2 separate regions of the Homo sapiens genome follow, and region 1 is linked to region 2. A link means that fine-mapping ties the variant in region 2 to the expression of a gene that starts in the linked region. Tissue or cell type: skeletal muscle. Region 2 holds a variant in brackets; the other region holds the start of a gene. All regions are shown on one strand. Distances are between the middles of the regions.

Region 1 (4,299 bases), 140 kb after region 2:
CACTCGATATACGCCCAATAAACATTTGCTCAGTGAACAATAATGCCACAACCCCTGAGTGATTTCTGGACCACACCTCAAGTATTTCTTGACCTTCTATTAAGGGACTCCTATGAACTCTACATAAAGTTCTATTTCTGTCAGAAACTCTCAGAATGTAAACGGTGTTTCTCTCCATTTGCCTTTGCTCAAATCTGCAAAGTGCCATCTCCTTCAACAGTTCTGCATGGTTCTTCCCACTACTACTTCATATTCTCATAATACGCGTAGATACTAGAAAGAAGGTACTATGTGTATTCCTGGGGGGAAAAAAAAAGGAGATCTTTCACTAACTAATATGACTTTTTTTTTTTTTTTTGAGACAGAGTATCGCTCTGAGGCCCAGGCTGGAATGCAGTGGCGTGATCTCAGCTCACTGCAACCTCCGCCTCCTGGGTTCAAGCGGTTGTCCCACCTCAGCCTCCCAAGTAGCTGGGATTACAGGCACCCGCCACCATGCCCAGCTAATTTTTGTATTTTTAGTAGAGGTGGGGTTTCACCACGTTGGCCAGGCTGGTCTTGAATTCCTGACCTCAGATGATCCTCCCGCCTCAGCCTCCCAAAGTGCTGGGATTACAGGCGTGAGCCACTGCGCCCAGCCATGACTATTATTTTTAAGGGTTGGGATGCCTTAAAGGTACTTTTTTCATAAGAAACACACAAACTACATTATCTGAATTCTGGCCATGTACAGGAAGACATTCTTAAAATATTTTAAAAGCCTCTGATTTTAAGGTGAACAGAACCTTTTAAAGGCACTGCAAGTACCCGCTGGTTTACTGCTTTATGTACACACCCTTCGTGGCCACTGAAGATTCTACATGACTGGCTAACTCATTTTCACAAAATAAGTACCTTTTTGGTCATACCGTGGTGTTAAAAGAAATAGGATCCCAGGAAGGAGGTAGTGAGACATTAAAAACAAAAAATAGGGTGCGGGTGGAGGGAGAGAGAGCATCAGGAAGAATACCTAATGGATGCTGGGCTTAATACCTGGGTGATGGGATGCTGTGTGGAGTAAACCACCATGGCACACGTTTACCTATGTAATACATCTGCAAATCCAAATCCTGCACATGTACGCCTGAATTTAAAATAAAAGTTGAAAGAAAGAAAAAAAAAAAAAGCAAGAGATCTAGTTGATAGTCTGTTTTACTAATGATTCACTGGGTAACCCTGGATCAGTCTTCTTAACTCGAAGTGAAGCGCCCAGTAAATAAACTCCCAAAATGCCTTCCAAGGAAAATATTTTGTTGCCAAATCAATTTGCTCTCTTAATGACTTAGCAGACATGATCTTGGTGATTATATGAAGAACTGCATAATTACAAGTATTCACAGGAAACCTGGTATTTGCCTATCAGTTTCGGATCCTATGAAGGTTTAAATGAGTCTAATATATGGTTCTTTAAGGATCTACAAACCAGTATGTATTTTAGAAAAGCTAGTTTTTGCATGAGGAGGATAGGTTTTAGAATGTGAGCCTTTCCAGCATGTTACTACTGTCTTTCCACACTTATTCGGCGCCCACACTGAATTGGGAAGGTGCTGTGTAAAAACCTGGACAGGACAATACAAAAAATGGTTCTCAGCGCCACTCCTCCTATCCTTACATCTCTTTTCTCTCCAAACTGTTCGAGAATCTGATAGAAGATCTCCAGAGTAGCGTCAATCAACTGCACAAAGGTCTGCATTACAACATACAGAGAGAGACATATGGGCTTGTCCAGCTCTTCAGAGCAAGGACGGCCTGATGCAGACTTTCCAGACCTCTAACATAGGTTAAAGAGAAACGAAGCAAACGCCTGGTGAAAAGCTGGAAACACCTCATATGGGTCCCCGCCTGGCCTCTCCAAAGCAAATGCCCACCTCTTCCTTCAGTCCCCTGGGGGCGACCGCCCTGCCCCATCCCCGCAGTCGCCTGCCGGCCCTGACCTCCTCGAACTGCTCGCTAGAGCAGCCGGCGCCGCGAGCCTCCAGCAGCTCCCGGAACTGCTCCAGAGTGACAGACTCTTCGCCGCGGCCCAGCCGCTCTTCCAGCCAGCGAAACAACGCGCCGCGATGCCTCGACACCAGCGACTCGCAGGGGGGTGTGGGCAGCAACGCTGCAGCAGCCTCTCGCAGCCTGGCCGGCTCCAGCAGCGCCGCGGCGGGTGGTAGCGCTGGAGCCGCGACGCCCGGGCCGGGGGTCGTGCCCGAGACCGCGGCCCAGTCCTGGTGTGGGCCCCAGCCCTCGCCACCGGCAGCTGCCGCTTCGTCTTCACTGCTGTGACTCGGAGCGTTCCCCATGGGGTCTCCGTCTTGGGCGCCTGGCTCTGCAGCCGCCGCCGCCGCCTCCCCGCCTCGACCTGTCAACCTCCGACAGCAGCTGGCGGGCGGGGACGCGGAGGAGACGACGGCGGCCCCTGCGGCTTCCGGCTTCCTGGCCGTCAAGCGACGACCGCTGTCGCAAAGGCGCCGTCACGTAGATAGGCGGCCTCTACCAACTCACGACAGCTAGGCGGGGAGCGCCGCCTCAAAGGGTGCAACCTTGATTTCCCAGAGGACGAGTCTGTCTCAGTATCTACGTCATTCCGTAGCCTCCGCTGCCGCCATCTTTGTTGGGGCTGACAACCTGCAAGCCAAGAAGTACGAGAAGGGCCAGGCGCGGTGGCTCACGCCTGTAATCCCAGCACTTTGGGAGGCCGAGACGGGTGGATCACCTGAGGTCAGGAGTTCGAGACCAGCCTGACCAACGTGGTGAAACCCTGTCTCTACTAAATACAAAATATTAGCCGGACGTGGGGGCGCGTGCCTGTAATCCCAGCTACTTGGGAGGCTGAGGCAGGAGAATCGCTTGAACCCGGGAGGCGGAGGTTGCAGTGAGCCGAGATTCCGCCAGTGCACTCCAGCCTGGACAACAAGAGCTAAAACTCTGTCTCAGAAAAAAAAAAAAAAAGTACCTGGAAAAAGTCGCAGACAGCGAGCTTTTCGCCAGTGCCAGGAATACAGATAAAACGAGAGAGACTAAGGGAGGGAGCGCGAGCACTAGCGCGCGAGAGAGAGAGCGAGAGCGCGCGCGCCGATGACGTCACGCTCGGCGTCTCGGCCATCTTAGCTGTAGATAGAGGCGGCAACCTCGGAAGTGCGGAGCGGGTGGGCCTATATAGATGTTGAGGTGCGGAGGCCGTGGGCTTTTGTTGGGCCTGGCTGTAGCCGCAGCAGCGGTAATGGCAGCACGGCTTATGGGCTGGTGGGGTCCCCGCGCTGGCTTTCGCCTTTTCATACCGGAGGAGCTGTCTCGCTACCGCGGCGGCCCAGGGGACCCGGGCCTGTACTTGGCGTTGCTCGGCCGTGTCTACGATGTGTCCTCCGGCCGGAGGCACTACGAGCCTGGGTCCCACTATAGCGGCTTCGCAGGTATCAGCGAGGCTGCTCACGCCTTTCTCTCCGCTGGCGCGAGCCAGTAGCCACCTGCGCGTCGTTCGTTGGTTCATTATTCATCTATTTCCCCCCCCATCCCCACCCCACATCCATCAAACCCGTGCGGTGGGCGGGACGAGCTGCATGCACTATCCTTCTAGGCTCTCTGGCTCTGGCGGGACTGTGGGCCAGCTCTGTCATCCACCACCGCCCTGCGTGACTTACATTGGAGAAACATGTCTTCTGTCTCTTGTTACCCATTACCCAGCGTCGGAAGCCCTAGGATACGGGCTGTGTGCCGGACTTTTGTGGGGGCTCTTAGGGCACAGATAAACGAGATCCCGCCCCGCCCCTACCCTCACAGTTTCCTTAATAATTCCAACCATCTCTTCATTATGCCCTGGTCCCAAATAATCTTTCTTCCCCCCACCCCTAAGCATAGTGTTTTCAAGGTTCATCCATGGTTTATGAGCATGCATCAATACTTTATTCCTTTATGGCCCGTCATATAGTACATTTGGTCTGAGTCATTCCTGCTTCTAGTACAAGATGCACCTGTTTGCCTTCCTTAGAAGGTTAGGGCAGAGGAAAGGGGTCCAGTCACCTTTACAGTCCTTGATACGTAGACCAAAGTTGTGCATATGTTAGGCCTCAAGAAACATTTGTCAAATTAAGTTTATGCTGGTGTCCCTGTGTTACAGCTGAGGGGGTTAAAGGATGCGATTTGCCTGAAACCCTCACACCTGAATACTGACAGAATATGGACTCGGACCACCAGTCTAGTGCTTTTTTTTTAAAGATGGAATCTCGCTGTGTCGCCCAGGCTGGAGTGCAGTGGCCTGATCTCGGCTCACTGCAA
Region 2 (4,618 bases):
GTTCTGGGTAATATTCCATGAGCACTTGAGAAAATGTATATTCTGCTTTTGTTGGGTAGAGTGTTCTATAGACATCCATCAAGTCAAATTGGTTCATAGTGTTGTTTAAGTCTTCAATTTTCATGCTACTTGTGAGACCGAAGTAGGAGGATTGCTTGAGCCCATAAGTTCAAGATCTGCTTGGGCAGCATAGTGAGACTTATTCTAAAATAAATACATAAATGATGTTCAATTTCCTTGTTGATCTCCTGGCTACTTCTTTTTTTTTTTTTTTTTTTCTTTTTTTTTTTTAATTGATCATTCTTGGGTGTTTCTCGCAGAGGGGGATTTGGCAGGGTCATAGGACAATAGTGGAGGGAAGGTCAGCAGATAAACAAGTGAACAAAGGTCTCTGGTTTTCCTAGGCAGAGGACCCTGCGGCCTTCCACAGTGTCTCCTGGCTACTTCTATCCACTACTGAAAGTGGGGTCTTGAGGTCTCCAGCTATCATTGCTGAGTTATCTATTCCCCGCTTCATTTCCGTCAGTTTTTGCTTCATGTGCTTTGGTGCTCTGTTACTAGGTGCATATATATTTATAATTGTTATATTTACCTGATGGATTGACCCTTTTATAATTCTAAAATGTCCCTAGAAGCATTTTTTTTGTTTTAAAGTCTATTTTGTCTGATAAAACTATAGCCACTTCAGCTTTCTTGTGATTGCCCTTTGCATGATATATCTTTTTTTTATTCTTTTGCTTTTCATCTATTTGTGCTTTTAAATCTAAAATGTTTCTCCATGGACAGCATATAGTAGAACCTTGTGTTTTTATTTTTTATTTTTTGAGATGGAGTCTCGCTCTGTCGCCCAGGCTGGAGTGCAGTGGCGCGATCTCGGCTCACTGCAACCTCCACCTCCCGGGTTCACGCCATTCTCCTGCCTCAGCCTCCTGAGTAGCTGGGACTACAGGCACTCGCCACCACACCCGGCTAATTTTTTGTATATTTAGTAGAGATGGGGTTTCACCATGTTAGCCAGGATGGTCTTGATCTCCTGACCTCGTGATCTGCCCGCCTCGGCCTCCTAAAGTGCTGGGATTACAGGCGTGAGCCACCGTGCCTGGTCGAATCTTTTTTTTTATCCAGTACAATAATCTTCCTTTTGATTACATTGTTTAATCCATTTACATTTAATATTATTGGTATAGTTGGATTTATGCCGCCATTTTACTTTTTGTTTTCTATGTCTCAAGTCTTTTCTGTTCCTCATTCTTCCTTCACTGCTTTCCTTTGCATTAAGTGAATATTTTCTAAGGTAGCATTTACATTTCTATGATGATTTTTTTGAAGTATATTTTTGGCATTTTCTTAGTTGTTGATCTAGGGTTTTATATACTTTTTTTTTTTTTTTTGAGACAGCGTCTCACTCTGTCACCCAGGCTGGAAAACAGTGGCATTATCATGGCTCACCACAGACTTGATGTGCTGGGCTTAAGCAATCCTCCTACCTCAGTCGCCCGAGCAGCTGGGACTACAGGCAAGCACCACCATGCCTGGCTAATTTTGTTTATTTTTTATAGAGATGAGGTCTCACTATGTTTCCCAGGCTGGTCTCCAACCCCTGAGCTCAAGCGATTCATCCTCTTGCCTTGGGCTCCTAAAGTGCTGGGATTACAGGCCTGATCCATTGCACCTGGCTATACATTTTAACTTACTAGAATCAGCTTCTGATTTATTTATTTATTTATTTTTGAAATAGAGTCTCGCTCTGTCACCCAGGCTGGAGTACAGTGGCGCAATATCGGCTCACTGCAACCTCTGCCTCCCAGGTTCAAGCAATTCTCCTGTCTCAGCCTCCCAAGTAGCTGGGACTACAGGTGTGTGCCATCATGCCTGGCTAATTTTTGTATTTTTTTTTTAGTAGAGACAGGGTTTTGCCATGTTGGTCAAGCTGGTCTCAAATTCCTGACCTCAGGTGATCCACCTGCCTCAGCCTTCCAAAGTGCTGGGATTACAGGCATGTGCCACCGCGCCCAGCCTCAGCTTAAGATTTATATTAACTTTAATTTTAATGAGATGTAGAAACATGACTCCTATGTAGCTTTTTTCCCTTTCTCTCCTTTTTGTGGCATTGTTGTTATAACTATCACATCTATAAATGTTACAAGCCCAACAATAAGTTGTTATAATCATTACTTTAAATAATTTTATGTTTTCTACAGAAGCTGAGAGAAAAAGGAGAATAAGTATATACAGCTTTTATTATATTAATCCTCTTTTT[T/A]AAAAAAATAATTTCTAGGCCGGGCACGGTGGCTCATGCCTGTAATCCCAGCACCTTGGGAGGCCGAGGCGGGGGGATCACTTGAGGTCAGGAGTTTCAGACCAGCCTGGCTAACATGGTGAAACTCCGTCTCTACTAAAAATACGATAGCCAGGTGTGGTGGCGGCGCCTGTAGTCCCAGCTACTTGGGAGGCTGAGGCAGGAGAATGGCGTGAACCCGGGAGGTGGAGGTTGTAGTAAGCCGAGATCGCGCCACTGCACTCCAGCCTGGGCGACAGAGCGAGACTCCGTCTCAAAAAATAAATAAATAAAATAATTTCTAGTTCTCTTCATTTCTTCTCGTGGATTTGAGTGACATCTGGAGTCATTTCCTTAGCCCAGTACAGCTTTGCTCCCACCCACCTTTCTTGTCTTGCTTTTGGTAAATATACTACATTTTATATGTAATAGGCCTAACAATATGTTATATTCATATTTATACAGTTGCTTTTTAAATCAGTTGAGAAGAAAAATGAATTTATACTGTCTTTTATAATTGCATAATTACTTTTACCAGTGCTTTTTGTGGATTCAAATTGCCATCCGGGGTAACTTGCTTTTAGCCTGAAGAACTACCTTTTTTTTTTTGAGACGCAATTTTGCTCTTGTTGCCCAGGCTGGAGTGCAATGGCGTGATCTTGGCTCACTGCAAACTCCATCTCCCAGGTTCAAGCAGTTCTCGTGACTCAGCCTCCCAAGTAGCTGGGATTACAGGCGCCCGCCACCACGCCCGGCTAATTTTTGTATTTTTAGTGGAGATGGGGTTTCACCATGTTAGCCAGGCTGGTCTTGAACTCCTTACCTCAAGTGATCCCCCCCACCTCGGACTCCCAAAGTGCTGGGATTACAGGCGTGAGCCACCATGCCTGGCCTTGCCCAGTTTAATTTTGTCTCAAATTATATTGCCTGATGCTGAATAACTCTGATTTTCTGTTTGCATCTGCTTGATAGACATGTGCTCATTCTTCTGCATTTCACCTTTTTCTGGTCTTAAGATCAGTTGTTTTAAATGTCTGTCTCTCCACTTCTGTTGCAAATTTCTAAACTCACTAGTGGATAAGCTGCCTGCCACATCTGGGGGCATCTTGCCTGGCCGAGTGGTTGAGTGGTCCAGCTGATGTGTTGACGAGGCTCACAGTGGCTGCGTGGGTACTTCTGCCATTGTCATGGATGCTGTGTTGCTCAGCAATTCTGAGGTGACAACACAAACTCATGGGTCTCCCAGGTAGCTTTTAAAACAGTAAATTGGCCGGGTGTGGTGGCTTACACCTGTAATCCCAGCACTTTGGGAGGCCGAGGCGGGTGGATCATGAGATCAGGAGATCGAGACCATCCTGGCTAACATGGTGAAACCCCATCTCTACTAAAAAGACAAAAAATTAGCCAGGTGTGGTGGCAGGCACCTGTAATCCCAGCTACTCGGGAGACTGAGGCAGGAGAATCGCTTGAACCCGGGAGGTGGATGTTTCAGTGAGCCGAGATCGCGCCACTGCACTCCACCCTGGGTGACAGTGAGACTCGGTCTCAAACAAACAAACAAAACAAACAAACAAAAAACAGTAAATTAACTCACGGCTAGAAGATACCAGCCAACAGCTTGGGAAGCCTCACATGAAGAGAGAGTGAGAAGCCCTCTCCACTGGGGAATCAGAGGTGGTCAGTGGCCGCGAGGAAGAGGAGAGAGCCATCACCTGGTGCTTTAATTTTCGCCCTCACCTGCCTGAAAACCCAGGTGGAAGCAGGGCAGGAGAATGAGCGGAGGAGGAAGAGGAGGAAGAGGCAGGATGGAGGGCGGGAGAGAGAGGGAGCCGACATCTTTGAGTCCCTGGAATTTAGCTTTGCCTGGGGCTAGAGGCAACCCTCGGGCTTTTCGGTTTTGTAAGTCAATCCATTTCCGTGTTAAGTTAGTTTGGAGTGTCTTTAACTTGCAACTGAAGAAATCCCAACGAATCCTGGGACAGCGCCTCCAGATAGGAAGTCTAGAAGCTGGTTGGGCATGAGCAAAGCTACGTACGCCAAGAACCCCAAGAGAGAAGGAGAATTTGGTAATGGAGCAACTGGATGCCATCTGTGGCTTGACTGGACACTGTTGGAGGCCTTTTTATTTCTGGAATTTTTACATTTCCTTTCCATATACTGTCCATATTTAATGTCATGAGAAGAGAGCTGTGACATTATTTCAACCTACTGGAGCCAAATTGTTGCATAAAGTTGGGTCAGAAATACTTTCCGCTGAGGTGAGAGGACACCTTGCCACCTCCTGGAGATGGGTAGTTCTAGGGCTCAAACAATGGAATGAAGGAGTCAGACTGTCAGACT

Which allele goes with the higher level. Positions count from the first base shown, and alleles are read on the strand shown. Sizes are in standard deviations (SD) of each study's normalised expression.
As copies of T replace A in region 2, the expression in skeletal muscle of the gene that starts at base 2,462 in region 1 goes down (small effect, 0.16 SD a copy in GTEx).

The links. PIP is the estimated chance that this variant, and not a neighbour inherited with it, causes the effect.
Region 1: it holds the start of ZZEF1, and the variant in region 2 is fine-mapped to the expression of ZZEF1 in skeletal muscle (GTEx, PIP 0.96). The same link has a PIP of 0.9 or more in Th17 cells.

The regions. Positions count from the first base shown.
Region 1 is chr17:4,140,569-4,144,867 of GRCh38, forward strand. ZZEF1 (zinc finger ZZ-type and EF-hand domain containing 1) reads right to left here and starts at 2,462. Exons shown (of 55, transcript NM_015113.4): 1 at 1,974-2,462. The coding sequence starts at 2,327. CYB5D2 (cytochrome b5 domain containing 2) reads left to right here and starts at 2,629. Exons shown (of 4, transcript NM_144611.4): 1 at 2,629-3,437. The coding sequence starts at 3,188. RefSeq lists a silencer at 2,188-2,357 and enhancers at 2,223-2,774, 2,438-2,747, 2,775-3,327, 2,898-3,477.
Region 2 is chr17:3,997,096-4,001,713 of GRCh38, forward strand. No RefSeq gene overlaps it. Among named protein-coding and RNA genes, the nearest start is that of LINC01975, 22 kb to the left of the region's middle. The variant T/A (reference allele first, on the strand shown) is at 2,261.